Regions from separate parts of the Homo sapiens genome. Here regions 1 and 2 are each linked to region 3. Evidence: fine-mapped expression QTL. Tissue or cell type: whole blood. Region 3 holds a variant in brackets; each other region holds the start of a gene. All regions are shown on one strand. Distances are from middle to middle.

The links. PIP is the estimated chance that this variant, and not a neighbour inherited with it, causes the effect.
Region 1: it holds the start of FAM110C, and the variant in region 3 is fine-mapped to the expression of FAM110C in whole blood (TOPMed, PIP above 0.99).
Region 2: SH3YL1 starts here. The variant in region 3 is fine-mapped to the expression of SH3YL1 in whole blood (TOPMed, PIP above 0.99).

The regions. Positions count from the first base shown.
Region 1 is chr2:43,663-48,810 of GRCh38, forward strand. It overlaps FAM110C (family with sequence similarity 110 member C), which reads right to left and starts at 2,843. Exons shown (of 2, transcript NM_001077710.3): 1 at 1,778-2,843. The coding sequence starts at 2,723.
Region 2 is chr2:261,630-266,777 of GRCh38, forward strand. SH3YL1 (SH3 and SYLF domain containing 1) reads right to left here and starts at 2,403. Exons shown (of 10, transcript NM_015677.4): 1 at 2,355-2,403. The coding sequence starts at 2,355. It overlaps ACP1 (acid phosphatase 1), which reads left to right and starts at 3,318. Exons shown (of 6, transcript NM_004300.4): 1 at 3,318-3,378. The coding sequence starts at 3,336. RefSeq lists silencers at 2,299-2,878, 2,949-3,028 and an enhancer at 3,379-3,428.
Region 3 is chr2:174,030-179,177 of GRCh38, forward strand. It overlaps LOC105373324 (a long non-coding RNA gene), which reads right to left. Exons shown (of 4, transcript XR_922689.3): 2 at 1,529-1,739. Among named protein-coding and RNA genes, the nearest start is that of SH3YL1, 87 kb to the right of the region's middle. The variant A/C (reference allele first, on the strand shown) is at 2,589.

The sequences.
Region 1 (5,148 bases), 130 kb before region 3:
CTGCTTTTATTTTTATGTTGTCAGGTTTTACTTTGGTTTCATTTGTATGCCACATTATTACCTCCCCACTATTTATACCACCAAGTCTACCTACTGCCTGCACATGCTATGGCTACCTGGAGGGAGCTTATTCATAAATTTACTTCTCACGTACTTCAATAGACAACTTTTTTTTGTTTGTTTTCCATTTCTGGGTTTCAGTCATGCAACACAGATTATTACTACACAGACTAGAAAATGTAGAGGTTGAAAACCATCCGCCTATCTCCCTTCTTTTTATGGACAAAGGACGCCTGGTCTATAGTGCAGGAATCATTTGCTAACATAAGACAGGCCCTTAATTCTGGTTTAGTGCTCTATCCACCAGACACTGTCCCTCCACGGACCTGGCCACTCTCCAAAGCTCCTGCCCTACACATGGTGCCATCATGGAAATACCCTTGCCAGCATTCATTCATCTCAGATCCAAAAGACAATTTGTGAAAACTACAAATTAATGTTTGTTTGCTTTTTAGAACTTTGCCTATATATATTTGTTGGGAACTTAGGCTAGTGGAAAACACAAATCTTCTATAAATTATAAGGAAGAACTTAAGTCCTGAGCCTTCTGAGTTCAAGAAAAAGAATGAATTATCTTCTTCTCATTAATTTTCATGTCTGTACTAAAGTCATAGCCAGAGAAATTATTGGAGATATTTTTAGCTGTCAAACATAGGTGAGCCCTGTGCAAACATCTCTTGGGCAGCCTCCCCCAAACTCTACAGGCTGCCATGCATCTTCACTTAGTTTATCACAATGGCAGAAAATAATTTCATCTCATGATTTTTAAAATTTACTTATAGCAAGTTGTCATTGAAGGGTAAGAGGAAAAAAAAGATGTCGCAAAGTTTAAATTGTTCGTTCTCAAAGACAGCCCTGAAAAGGTTCTTTCTCTTCACTACTTTCCAAGACGCCCATAGGGAAGAGCAGGTAACAGTGAAGACCAGCACTCCTCAGTTCCCCAGTGAAAAGCAAAAAGAGCTCGAGGTCAATCCGGCACTACTGGTTGTCCAAAGGGAGGTTACTTCCTGTAGTGTCATCAGAGGCAAATAAACTATAGACTCTAGTTACAATCTAGTCCAATTTCCCCAGTTTAAAAACCTGAAGCTCTCAAAACAATTTAAATAAAATTTAGCCAAATAAAGATCTTTGTTGCTAAGTGAATGCCAAAGTGCTACAAGATCCTGTGGAGAAGTTCTCACCACTTCAGCACAGGCCTCCAGGAAAGTGCAGGGAGTCTTCCTTTCTGTTCCAGTAACACAGCAGCGCCTACCTAGGGCTGCAGGTGGACTGGTCAGCTCCAATCAAACATCAGGACCGCCCACAGCACAGGTCAATGAACTCAGGAACTAGGGCTCTCAAGCTGTTTTCAGCTCAGGAAAGAATACTAGGGGTGTAAAACTGCTTTCTGGCAGCATTTTGGATTTCTCCTGTTTTCACAATAATAAGCCAAATGGGACATATTAATTTGCAGAATTGCCTTTCCAGGCAGCCAGACGCAGCAGACTCCTAAGGGCCTGGACCAGCAGGTGCCTGGATTGGTACCTTCTGCTCTTCAGCAGCGGGGGCTCAACTCACAAGCCTCTGCGTCAGTCTCTTGGGTCCCTTTCACACTGTAGCTCAAAATCGCACTCAATTCTAAGCAGCTGTAACTGGCCATCGCCCAGCTCGGTCACACTCACCAAGATTCACAGCCCCGCACACGGCCAGCCCCGCCCCCAGCCTTCTGGGCACACACCTCGGGTCCGGCTCTGCTCCTGGCTGGGGGTCTCCTTGGCCTTCTTACAGGTGTACAGCCACTTGATGATGCGGGCGTTCCTCTCGATGACCGAAGTGGTGCTGGGCACCTGCTCTATCAGCTCCTCCTCCTGCAGCCCCTCGTCGTCGCCGCCGCTGTGCCGGGAGAAGCCGCTGCCGGAGGTGGCGACGCTCACGCTGCGCACCTTGAGGGTCACACAGTCCGACCCCGCGGTGAAGTTCTCCCTCCCCAGGGCCTCCACCACCTCGGGGTCCAGGCCGCAGTACTGGAAGAAGGTGTCAGACTCGGCCAAGGCAGCGGAATAGCGGGAGCTGAGGTCCGACTGTGAGCGCTGCAGCCCCCGACGCCTCACCACCCGCGGCTCTGGCCCAGGGGGCGCGGCCGGGACACTGGAGGGCGCCGCGGACCGCGCGGCTGGGGCTGGGGTCTCGGGGATTGCGGGGTCCGCCGCGGGGCCAGGAGTGGTCGGGACCGTCTCCGGGTTCCCGGCCTTGCCCTCGTCTCCCGTCCGGGGCACCGGCGCCTTGTCCTTACCCGGCCCCTGGAAGAGCTTCTTCACCAGGCTTGCCCTGGGGCCGTCGGCGCCCGATCCTCGCACGAATTCGCATTTCTGCCGGTAGATGATCAGCGAGTCCGGTCTCAACGGCTTCCGCGCAATAGCCCTGCGCGCCACCGGGGCCGGGGCGCGGGCCGGGGGCCCAGGGTCGTTCCCCGGGCACTTGATCGCCCCCGGGCCGCTGCCCTCGGAAGCGACGCCCCGGCCAGTCCCCGGCCGACCCCGCACATACTTGGCGCGATCCGCCGCCAGCCTCTCCACTGCGCTCCTGCGCGCCGGCCGCGCGGCGTCGGGGTCCCGGGTAGCCGCGGGGTCCCGGGGAAGGAGCCGCTCGTTCGGGGGCGCGCTCAGGGCCGCCAGGGCGCGCATCTTCGCGGGGAATGGACCGACCGGGGTTCCGGGTCCAGCGGAGACGCGCTCGAGTGGTAGAGCCAGTCAGTCCCAGGGCCGGTTCCGAAGTCCGCGCCGGGTGGGGAACGGCGCCCCAGTGCCCAGCTGCCCAGGCCCGGGGTTGGGGAGAACCGGAGTCTGCACCGATTGGCGAAACTCCCCAGTTCCCGCCCCTCCCGACCTCATCGCCCACACCGACTGGCACCGCCCCCGCCCCCGCCCGGTGCCCCGGCCCTGGCCGCGTCCCCGCATCCCCGCTCGTCCCCGCCCGTCCCCGCCTCCTCACTCCCGCCCGGGCCCGCCTCCCTGGCCGCTCTCCGGGTGCCAGCGCCCGCCCTCACCTCGCGTCCGGGGTCCCGGCCCTCACCTCCTGCCCGGTGCCGTCCCCGCCCCCCCTCACCTTCCGGCGGCGCTGCCAACCGCCTGGAGGACGCTGGGGCGAGCAGGCTCTGAACCCCCACTCGCTCAGCCCCAGATCCCCGAGGTCACTGCTGGACGCAGGCATTTCCGGGGAGGGGGAGCAGAGGGGACGTCCCCCCACCTCCCCCGGGCAGGTGCCTCACATCCTTTGAATTCTTAAAGTGACCTCATCGTGTTTGGAAACTTGACTGTTTAATTTTGTCTACCTGAGCTCATATTCTTATTAACAGAAAGGAATAGGACATAAGAGGAAAGAACACGCAGCGCACGCCAGGATCAGCCTACGTGTTGGGTGGCAAGAACGCAGGGCCTCGGATTGGGTCCGACTCGGTCGCTGGCCGGCAGCGGGCGTGGCCGGGCCCGAGGACCGAGCTAGGACTCTCAGTGGGGCAGGCTGGGGCCCCAGGCGCGGCTCAGTGGATTTGGAAGAAGCCCAGCCAAGTGTCCAGAATCATTGCTATTTTTACGGTAACCGAGGCAACGGGGAAACCACGAGTTCACCAGGCAGTGGATCAGCCTAGGAATGCTAAGAGTCTAAGATAAAATACTTCCCAAACTCCATTATTTCAAAAATTTGGACAAAATACTAAAGTTATCTCTCAGACATGTGAAATGTTCACGTTATCGCGTTGTGAAGACAACTCCGTAACAGGCTGTGCTTTCAGCCTTGTGGTTGAACGCTCCGAGCAGCAGCAGCCCGGAAGGCAGGGAGGGCGACAGGTGCAGATGGGCCCCCAAAGTGGGCACGAACACCTCACCAACGAGGAAGAGGACCGCAGCAGGGTGGTGCTGAGTGGGCCTTGGGGGTCTTTAATCTCCTTGAGCCCCAGCGAAGCAAAATTTCATAGGGATAGTAGCACAACAATAAATCGCCTCCTGAAAGCCAGACCGCCCAGACAGCCTCGTTGGAACATGTAAGACTCATAGGAAAAGGAGTCTAGGCCAATAAAGTAGAGAGTGGGAGAAGAGAAGGAAGGATGCGGGGGTGGGGAGTGAAAGAGAGGGACAGAGATGGAGAAAGGGGGAGCTCCTGGGTTGCCACAGATGGTTTCCTACAGGATGCGGGAGGATGGGGCCTTGAGGTCTAAAGTCCAGCCTGCTCTCTGCTTGGCAAGCCTGTTCCCTAAGTCAGAGGAAAAAACCTTTTTAATTGTGTAGCCCAAAGTGTCTTCTTTTCCTAATTTGCACTACTTCATGGGCAACAGCAGCACTTCTAAGACAGAGAACTGCAAAGTACAGGACCTCTGGAATTTGACCCTGGGTCCACAATTTACCTTTGGACAGGTAACAAACGTTCCAGGTTGTTTTGTCACCTGTAAAAATTTCTGTTTTAAATTTACAAGAAAAGACAATCCCATTAAAAAGCGGACAAAGGACATGAACAGACACTTCTCAAAGGAAGACATTTATGTGGCCAACAAACATATGAAAAAAGCTCAACATCATAGATCATTAGAGAGATGCAAATCAAAGCCAATGAAATACCATCTCACGCAAGTCAGAATGGCTGTTATAAAAAGTCAAGAAACAACAGATGCTAGAGAGGCTGCAGACAAATAGGAACGTTTTCACACATTGATGGGAATGTAAATTAGTTCAACTACTGTGGAAGACAGTGTGACAATTACTCAAAGACCTAGAACCAGAAATATCATTTGACCCAGCAATACCATTACTGAGTATACACCCAAAGAAATACAAATTATTGTCTTATGAAGATACATGCACACATATGTTCACTGCAGCACTACTCACAATGGCAAAGATGTAGAATCAACCCAAAGGCCCATTATAGACTGGACAAAGAAAATGTGATACATATACACCATGGAATACTATGCATCCATAAAAAATAATGAGATCATGTACTTTGCAGGGACATGGATGGAGCTGGAAGCCATTATCTTCAGCAAACTAACACAGGAACAGAAAACCAAACACCACATGTTCTCACTTATAAGCGGGAGACGAACAATGAGAACAC
Region 2 (5,148 bases), 88 kb after region 3:
TTCTATAAACTCAATGCTAGAGTCACTGGGGACAAACAGGGACATGAGAATCCTACTCGGAGTAAATTGCCACCTGAGGTGACAAAGCTGACTACGGTTTCCAATCTAGTTGTACACGGAGGGTCAGGAATGAAAGCAAGAAGACCCAAGGGCCCCTCTCCACCACTTTCCTTACCAGAGTTCAGATTCCCAAACTTTTGCTTCCCTTATATTATTTTCTTCAATGGACTCTAATTATGAAAGGAATACTTACAGGAAAGCAAGCTTACTAAATTTGGTTTTCCAAGTTCTTACTGATTACATATTAATCAAATTATTAAACCTTATACTTTATGTGAAATGGAGGTTAACTCATTAAACTGATAAAATTCCATCTAAGATCAAAGGAACTTGAATGCTGCTAAAGGTATATTTAGAATAAACTAAAGAAATCTTAGCCAAAAGAAAGTGTATGTATCTAATCTTTAGAGAGGCTTTCAAATGTTGCTTTAAGCTACTTTTATTAACAAAACTGCATTTTGAACTCCACTGCTTGACAACTATGGCCTTTGTTTCTTAAGTCAATTCTTACCTTTCTGGGGCCTTGGTTTAACTACTTCCTTTGTTTTAAGGACACAAAGCTTGTCAGTTCTCAAAATAAAAACCTGTCTCTCTGGTCAGATCATTAACTCCCTAGTCAAACTTTCAGACTACCGTCTGAACATCAAGTGCTAGCCTGAGCTTGTTTCCAGTCCCCCAACCCCAGGCTGTGGCTGGGGAAGGAAGAGGACAGCGAAAGCTTTCTCTGCTCCCTCGGGAGACAGGAAAGCCCTTTATTTATTCCTGCCCTTCCTCTTCTCCAACTGAAGAGTGTGATCTTGGTACAGAGCAGTTCCACACATGCCACACTGGTCTGATCTTTTAGAGTAAAAAATGGGATCTTCTCAGAGAAAATTTTTTTAAAAACTTCATGTGCTTAGGTCTCAGAGCAGAGAATTTTGTCTTATCATGACGCCACTCACTGGCAAACAAGCTGGCGTGCACAGGGACTTGTGAGGCTCTCAGCAGAGTCAGGGTAGCAGTTATTTCCCTTTGACTGCCTCAACTTCCTATGTTTGTGTTGACATGCCAGATCCTTATTTCTGCGGAATGAGAAATCTCTTGAGAATAAAGTTTTCCTAAACAGAACAAAAGTATCAAATCACTTTTGATGAGCAAACATTATTTTAAACTTTTTTTTAACTTACAAAAGATGAGGGGTAACATTTACTAGTTTTACAGAAATTTTCTTTAAACAGAACATTAGTGAACCAAATAACCAATTCTCCTCAAACATGATAGACAGGATGGAGGTTATCACTTTGATCATTTTAACCTCCAACATAGTAATTTGTAAACATCAGTCGCTGCACAAGTATTTTAATAACAGGCCAGCCCACGGGAGTAAACAGCACCTTAGCCTCGAGACCTGTTCTCTCAACTGTGTGTACAGATTTTCTAAGTCGTTATGAATTCAGATATTCCCTACATCTCAATAAAAACACCTAGGAGAACAAGAAATCAGGACATGCATCTCCTGTAAGCAGAAGAGAAACCGAGCACCTGCTCTCTTGCGGGGGGGCAGCTTCGTGTCACTTTCCAACTCAGCCTCCACAGGAGCATGGGCATATTGGTTCAAATGAAGTGTAAAGGACACATCTCTGTCCACAGTGTAAATCCTATTTCCTTAAGGTGGTCAACCGATTGAGACCAGTTCCACACTTCCTTAAAGAAGGAAAAACTCAGCAGCCAGCGCCAAGGCCCAGCGATCAGAGAGGACCCGTGCTCGCCGCGACCCCGCGCTCGCCCTGTGGCCCCGCGACCCCGGCGCCAGGTGTTGGGGGGACCGGCCCTTCCCTTCCGGGTGTGAGGGGCTGGCCCTTCTCTTCCAGGTTGGGGGGCTGGCAAACTCGAACCTCGCCGGCGCCCTAGCCAAGGCCTCCTCCCCGCGCCTGCCGCGGGTTCCACGCACATTCCAAGCGCGCGCATTCGACCCAAACTTCAGAGACGCTTCTGTGGAACGGAAGGATGGTCGCTGACACCTCGCCGTTCAAATATCAGGAAGTTAAAAATAACACGACCATCGTCATCATTCCAAACTTCGGAATAGCTTTTCTAAAAATGGAAAAGACGGTGGCTAAACTTCAATCAAAATCGCTGTGGTCAAGAAAGTCCTGGAAGCTGCTCTATCTTAACTTTGGGCGGTTTGCGGTTAACAGACGCGCGACCTAGAAACCCCAGAGGCATCGCCGGTTTTCCCGTCCTCCTCCTCCCACCACCGCCCAGCTCTTGAGAGGGGAGGGTGCTGCCGGACAGGTGGGTCCCCGGGTACTCACTGCTGCCCGCCCGGCCGCGGCGCCCCGTCCCGAGGCTGCCCAGGAAGAGGAAGGCGCGCTGCCCCGCCCCGCGGACAAGGAGGCCCCAGCGAGGGCGTACCTGCGGCAGGTGACGAAGGAGGCGGCGCAAAACACCCGCCGTGTACGTTTCGCGGGACAAAAACCACGCGCCCGCCGGGCCGCGCTCAGGCCTTCGCCCTCAGGGACTTCGGAACCGCCCCGTCCTCAAGATCGAAAAGCCCAGAGCCCCGCGGCGGCTCCAAGCACGGTGTTGGGGGTGGGGGTCTCAGGGAGCGCCCAGGCCCAAGGCCGCCCTGGTCCGGCGTGGACCCCGCGGGGCTCAAGGCAGGTTCCCCGCGTGACCCGCCCAGCCCCTCTATGCGAACTCGAACGACAGGCACCACAGCCCGCCACGTGCGCGAGACTCGCGCTGTGCCCCAACCCAGGTGGGCGGCCCGCGGAGCCGCGAGGCCTGAGCCCGCCCTGCAGGTGACCCGCGGCCCTTCCTCCTCCAGGTACCCCTCTCCTGCGGCCCCGTCCCCTATAGGTAACCTTTACCTCCCGCGGCTCCTTCCCCTCCAAGCGACCCGCAGCCCCGCCCCCTCCAGGTGACTCCCCCCCGCCAACCCCCGCCACCACACACACACACCCCCTCGCCTTCCGCGGCCCTACTCCCTCCAGGTGACCCCACCCCCGCAGCTCCTCCTCCTCCGGACAACCTGCAGCCCCGCCCCTGCAGGTGAACGGCGGCCCAGTCCCTGCAGGTGACCCGCGGACCCTCCCCGCCCGTCCTACTACCGTCATAGGACCGCCTCCGCAGGCGCACTGGAGCCGATTGCGCAGGCGTGGCTCTCACACGCGCTGCCCTGTTGGCGTTGGTGCGGGACTGCGCAGGCGCGCGGGGCAAGAGGGTGGCAGTGCGCCTGCGCCGCGTCGGCGTGCGGAACGCCGCGGTGTCTCGGCGCCTCTGCGCGCGGGAAGATGGCGGAACAGGCTACCAAGTCCGTGCTGTTTGTGTGTCTGGGTAAGAGGGCGCCGACTTACTCATGTTCTGACGTCCTCTGGAGAGTTGGATCGGGCTTGTGCGCTGTAGGTTGTGCCGCCGGCCTAGGAACCATGAGGGGGAGGAGGCCAGGGACTGGGAGGCCTAGGGTGTTCTAGGAGTGTGCCGCAGCGCCCCTGTTCCCCATCCGCCCCGTGCACCCGCCCAGCCTGCCCGCTAAACCTGGGTCCCCTCGCGCCTGCCATATATCCGGGGCTCTTGGCATCTGCAGCCACAGCCCCTACAAGCCAAGGTACTTTCTTTGCGACTACTAGAATCCCTCTCGTTCCCCTCCAATGGGCCCAGGTAGGCCTGGAGGTTGTCGGACTGATGTGGTCTCTTAGGGGCCTCCTGAGTCCTATGACAACATTGTTTTGTTTGCTAGTTTCCTTAGCCCATGCTTAGATAGGGATCTGAGTTAAAGGGAGATGAAGTTTTACGGTTTCGGGTTTCTTGATTGTAAAAGCCAAGCAAAGGAGACCTGGAGGTCCCTATATAACTTTGGCCCATGAAAAATGAAAGTGTATTTTATTAATGGCTTTTCAGGAACTTTCCAGCTTAAATTATTTTCACTCCTAGAATTTCAACACTTAGCTTGCCTTACTTCAAACATAATTTATTTTCCGTTTGGTCTTCAGGGATCTTCCTTTGGTGTAGCACTACAAGGTTATATTCCTCGGTGCCTCCACCCTGAGAGGAAGGCCTAAATTGTCAGTAGTCCGGTTACTTAAAACCTTCTGTGAGTTTGCATTTCCTGCAGTTTCTGTTTATTTTTACAGACTCCTCACTTTATCTCCTGTACCTTTTCCTGCTCACACCCTCGGGACACTGCCTTCCAGAACCTTTCGTTGTTCGGTAGCACTTCACATGCTTACTGAGCCTTCATCGCTGGGTGCCCATTATGCATTTTGCCTGGAAAGCCTTTTTATTTTATAAAGTCAAACCTAAATATTTCCTCCTTTGCTTTCCCAGATCATGAGTTGCTTCCTTATCGACATCTTTTATTACACAAATTTTACTATAATTTGTGTAATATAGTAAAAGATGTAATACAGAAAAGGTGTGATTCCTTATCGACATCTTTTATTACACAAATTTTACTATAATTATTTGATAGTCTGTTGAAATCCCAGCTGAGTTTAATTTTGTCGATGGCAATAACTGTGGCTTATTTTTCATTTTGTTTTCAGCTTTAGGACAATATATGATAAACGCTGACTAGGTTTTGTAGAAGTTAACTTCTGTGAAAGACGAATTAGAAGGCTTACCTTGTTTCACATTGGTAGTGGGCATCATTTGATTTTTAAGACTCATTGAAGGCTGAATGATGAAATCAATAAGTTTATTAAACAGTAGTTTGGTTAAGGATGGTTACTAAATAATATTCCATTCCCTTGTATAGTTTTGGTTGGTATTGTCGATTATGCTGGCATAATGCATCATGGTTGCTGTTAATGGGGAAGTGTATCCTTGCATATACAGTAGTCCCACTTTAGCTGTAGGGGATACATTCCAAGACTCCCCAGTGGATCCCGAAACTGTGGGTAGTACCAAACCCAATTGCTGTCAATTGGAACATGTGTCTGCTCGTTTCTTACACCCACAAATGTAATACCGTTGCCACCTTAACTAAGCATTTAAAACTGTGGTCGCAACTTTTGCAGTTTGAGGCAAGACAGCAGACGATCAGGAATTTCTTTTTCCTTGTTTACATTTTCATGGATAGAAGATTTGTTCGTACTGTAGATCTTA
Region 3 (5,148 bases):
CTCCTTCTTCATGTGTCACTATTAAATGTGAACAGTGAAGAATCACCTCTAGATGAGCCTTTCACTAATGATAACACAGACTCATTCTCCTTCTTCATGTGTCACTATTAAATGTGAACAATGAAGAATCACCAGACATTTCAGGGAAACCAATCCCAATGGGAAAAAAGACCAAGGTAAACTGGGAGGCAGAATGATTGTTGAGAACCTAACATTGTAGCAAAATAAGAAATAAGAGTTTTATATCATCATTCACTTAGTGGTAGTGTCTGGGGTTTCACTATACAAATATATCACTTTGATATATATATATATATATATATATATATATATATACATATACACACACACACACACACACACAGACACACACACACACACACACACACACATATATATATATATATTTTTTTTTTTTTTGGCGGAGTCTCAATCTGTTACCCAGGCTGGAGTACAGTGGTGTGATCTTGGCTCACTGCAACCTCTGTCTCTTGGGTTCAAGTGATTCTCCTGCCAACTTTTGTATTTTAAGTAAAGACGGGGTTTCACCATGTTGGCCAGGCGTGTCTTGAAATCCTGACCTCAGGTGATCTGCCTGCCTTGATCTCCCAAAGTGCTGGGATTGTAGGCATGAGCCACCATGCCTGACCTGACATAGTTTTAACTATTAGAAGAAACCACAGGAAGCTACCATTTGAATAGATCAAACATTAGCAATATATTAAAATATCAGCAATTTCATATGCTCAAGATTATTTTTTAAAAAATAAAAAGAGAAGAGAATTGATTCAATTTCTAGGCCAGCAACCAAAGAAAAAGCAAGAAATGGAAGATTTTACAATTATATAGTAATAGCAAGATCTTACATTTCTATTGAGTTTTAAAGATTACAAAACACATCAATATACATTGCCTTGTTTGATCTTTAAACAACTCTATAATTGTAATTAATATATCTAAAAATTGTAACTCTTGAGAAATCCAGGACGAAACAAATGAAGCCTAAACACAGCTTTAATTTGCCAAGTAATGGGTGGAGAAGGGATCAGAAGCTGGGCTGACTGACCCCACGTCCTCTTCTTCCATTACTTAAAAGAAGTCAGCCAGCACAAAACCTTGGGAAGGACCTGAGATAAAGGCAGTGGGAAAAGAGCAGAGTCAAGGATGATCTATAAACAGAGGTAAAAGAAGGAATGCCTTAAATACAAAAACATATGTCCACAGAGCTGGGAGTTGTACAAAGCCATGTAATTAGAGAACATCATGTTGACAGCAGACTCTTGACCTGGGGGAAAAACGTTCACGACACTGACTCCAAGAAGGATAAACTTGAAGGATTCCAGATGTGAGGCAGTCAAAGCCTCACTTGGAAGCACTGTACAAATGTTCATGTCAAGAACTGAAATGAATTTATACCCACATAAAACTACATGTAGGGGAAGGCTTACTTTGTAAGATGTTTCCGGACACTACATTAGCAGCTGTACCGCACACACTTACACAACACAAACACAGGCAAGCTTGTCACCTGCACAGCTGGAGGGTTAGCCTGGACAGGGCGATTACAGTCTCTCCTGAACCTCTTCCTTCTCGTCCGTGACTGAATCCTATTCACATGCTATAAGGACCATGGGCTTGTGGAATCCAACTTAGCTTCCTTTAGAACCAAAGGATGCCTCTGTGACACATGCAGAAATGACTTCCTTTTATTTTTCATTCAGTCCGTAGGAAGAGAACAGCTGCAAGAGAGAGAAAGAAAATGTACACGGTGGCTAGGTGGAGACGGCACCTGAAGAGTGAGTTTCATGTTTAGCCCCAACAGTTTATAAACATTCATGTGGTGATTAAAGATATTCCCCAAAACCAGAAAACACAACTGAGTCAGCTTCTGTTAGTGAGCATCACGCTGCAACCCAGGGGCCAGATGTCCTTGGAAAAGATCAGAGACATAACACAAATGAGTCAGCTTCTGTTAGTGAGCATTGCGCTGCAACCCAGAGGCCAGATGTCCTTGGAAAAGATCAGAGACATAAAACATCGCCGCCTCTGTTTATGCAACTTACTGAAGTTTACATGGAACCCCCGTGCCCTCCCTGCGTTTAACCTTCTATGCAAATGACAGAGACTGTCACTAGAGAAGGAGCAGTAGATTCTCATCCAGTTCCACAAGTCAACACGAGCATTGTCTCACTCCCCATGTTGACAGCTGCAGAGGATTTTCCATTCCCTGCCCCTACTGCTTCCAAAAACATCGGTTTTACATTGCCATAGCTAATGTTAACACCTCCTAGAATAAAGGGGGAATCACCACCGAGTGTCAGTTCTGGTTCAGACTGTGGAGTGAGGGTGTTATTCTTCTTGCATAAAATGTAGTGACTCCACATTGCACCAGTGGCTTGGTAAAAAAGACAAAATTTCTAGGGAATTAGTATCGATTATTTTTAACTATCATAACCTTGGCTTTATTGACACTTTGTATTAAACAGATCTCACTTGCCAAACGCCACAGGATGCAAGCCAACAGACGGGCCCAGAGAGCTCTCGTGAGCCGGAACTGTCACATAAGAAGCAAAACCACGAGAGAGAGA[A/C]CACCACCCACATCCAACACAGCATAGCCACCCTGAAAGCCTCAGCATGTAAACTTTCGTGGCACCACCCTTTCTTTTAGAAATGTGTTTAGATTTTATAGACTTTTGCTAGACTTTGTTATGTAAGCTTTATGTACTGAAAGGTCTTAATTAAAGATTTTTAAATGTTGAGTAAAATGTTCACCAGTATAGTTTGTAATATATATATAACAAACCTGTCATATAATTTATTTTCTTTAAAAACAAGGCCCTTATACAAATTGCCCATGGAACTTTTATTTAGAATTTAAGGTCATTTGGGGCTTAGTGTCATATAAACAAAATTCTCCCAATTGCTAGGGTCCTCTTGGGGTGCTGCATTCCTGCGAACCATGATCATGCCAGGCTTTGTCAGTGATTGGAAAAACAGATCCTTCTCTGTCTGGGAGCTCAAATGCCTAGGGTGATGCCAGATCAAGTTTTCATTACTGAGTCATACATTCCTAAATTCAGTGTATCTCAGAAAAACAGACATACCTTTAACTCACAACAGTTTAACCTGACAAAGGTCTCAAATACTTCTATTGCAATAAAAATTGTGAAAAGGCTATCTTGCTAGAGATCTCTGACTCAGAGAAGAAAGTGAAGGTTGGGCATGGTAGCTCATGTCTGTAATCCCAGCACTTTGGGAGGTTGAGGCAGGTGGATCACTTGATGTCAGGAGTTTGAGAGCAGCTTGGGAAACACAGTGAAACCATCTCTGCTAAAAATACAAAAATTAGCTTGGCGTAGTGGTGCTTGCCTGCAGTACCAGCTGCTTGGGAGGCTCAGGCAGAATTGCTTGAACCTGGAAGGTGGAGGTTGCAGTGAGCCAAGATTGAGCCACCACATTCCAGCCTGGGTGACAGAATGAGACTCTGTCTCAAAAAAATAAAAAAATAAAAAATAGGCCAAATAAATAAGAGAGAGAGAAAAGAAAGTGAAGAATCTCAGTGACTGCAGCATTTTGGAACAGAATTTCTTTCAGGGAGGAATAGGGCACTGAGTATAAAAAGCAGCAGTGGAAAGAATTGCACAAACCCCTTTTCCATGCACTAGGTCTCTGGGTATAACTTTTATGAAGTTTAATTTCCTTCTAGTTGAATAAAGGTAGCAATGTGTTGCCTTTTACGTTGTGTATGAAGAGCCTAGAATGATGATCGACACCAAAAAGGAGTCAGTAATTTGATCCATTCACTCTTGGGTGCTGAGCTCCTCAGGGCATAGGCAGGAGGCACAGCTGGAAAGCCACCTGTGGGTGCACAGGTGCTGCTGGAGAGCAGAGTGAAGGAGGAAATAGGACAGGTGCTAAGGAACATGCAGGTGGAGCTGGAACACAGAGTGCAAGAGGGAATAGGCCAGGTGCTAAGGAACATGCAGGTGGAGCTGGAGAGCAGAGTGCAGAAGGGAGTAGGTCAGGGGCTAAGGAGAACACAGGGGCAGCTAGAGAGCAGAGTGCAGGAGGGAATAGGACAGGTGCTCATGAAAACACAGGGGAACCTGGGGTTCAGAGTAAAGGAGGGAATAGGACAGGTGCTAAGCATAATGCAGGTGCAGCTAGAAAGTAGAGTGCATGAGGAAACTAGAAGAGATGCTAGAGGAACACACTGAGATAGGTCCTGAGGGCTCCACTGAACCATACTTATCACTGCGTTTCAGAGTTCTTTCTTCTCATGCATCTATTTAAAAGGTGATCATTTGTGCACACTTTCTATCCTGCAGTGTAGCCATTTTAAGTATTCCTAACTAAATTGAGAGCAATTTAAGAACAGATGTCTTCTTGCACACACATGTTTATAGCAGCAAAATTCACAATTACAAAAATATGGAACCAGACTAAATGCCCATCAACCAACGAGTGAATAAATAAAATATTATATATATTATATATATATATGTATACACACACACACACACACACACACACACACACACACCATGGAATACTACTCAGCCATAAAAAGTAAAAAAATAATGGCATTTGCAGCAACCTGGATGGAGTTGCAGACCATTATTCTAGTGAAGTAACTCAGAAATGGAAAAGCAAATACTATATGTTCTCACTTATAGGTGGGACCTAAGCTATGAGGATTCGAAGGCATAAGAATGATAAAATGGACTTTGGAGACTTAGGGGGAAAGGTGAGAGGGGGTGAGGGATAAGAGACTACACATTGGGTACAGTGTACACTGTTTGGGTGATGGGTGCACCAAAATCTCAGAAACCATCACTAAAGAACCTACGCAAGTAACCAAAACCACCTGTTCCCCAGAACTATTGAAATAAAATAAAATAAAAATAACAGATATCTTATTCCTTTGGTAGTCCCCAGGGCCTAGCTCAAGAATTTACTAAATGCTTGTAAAATATAAGAATAAATGGAACAACTGGGTAAGCACAGCTCATGCAGAGACATCCAGCCGTTTCAGAAGTGTTAAGGTTCAGAGCAGTGGGCCCTGCGTAGGTCCTGGGTCATGGCATTTCCAGGAGGCACAGCCGTTTCAGAAGTGTTAAGGTTCAGAGCAGTGGGCCCTGCGTAGGT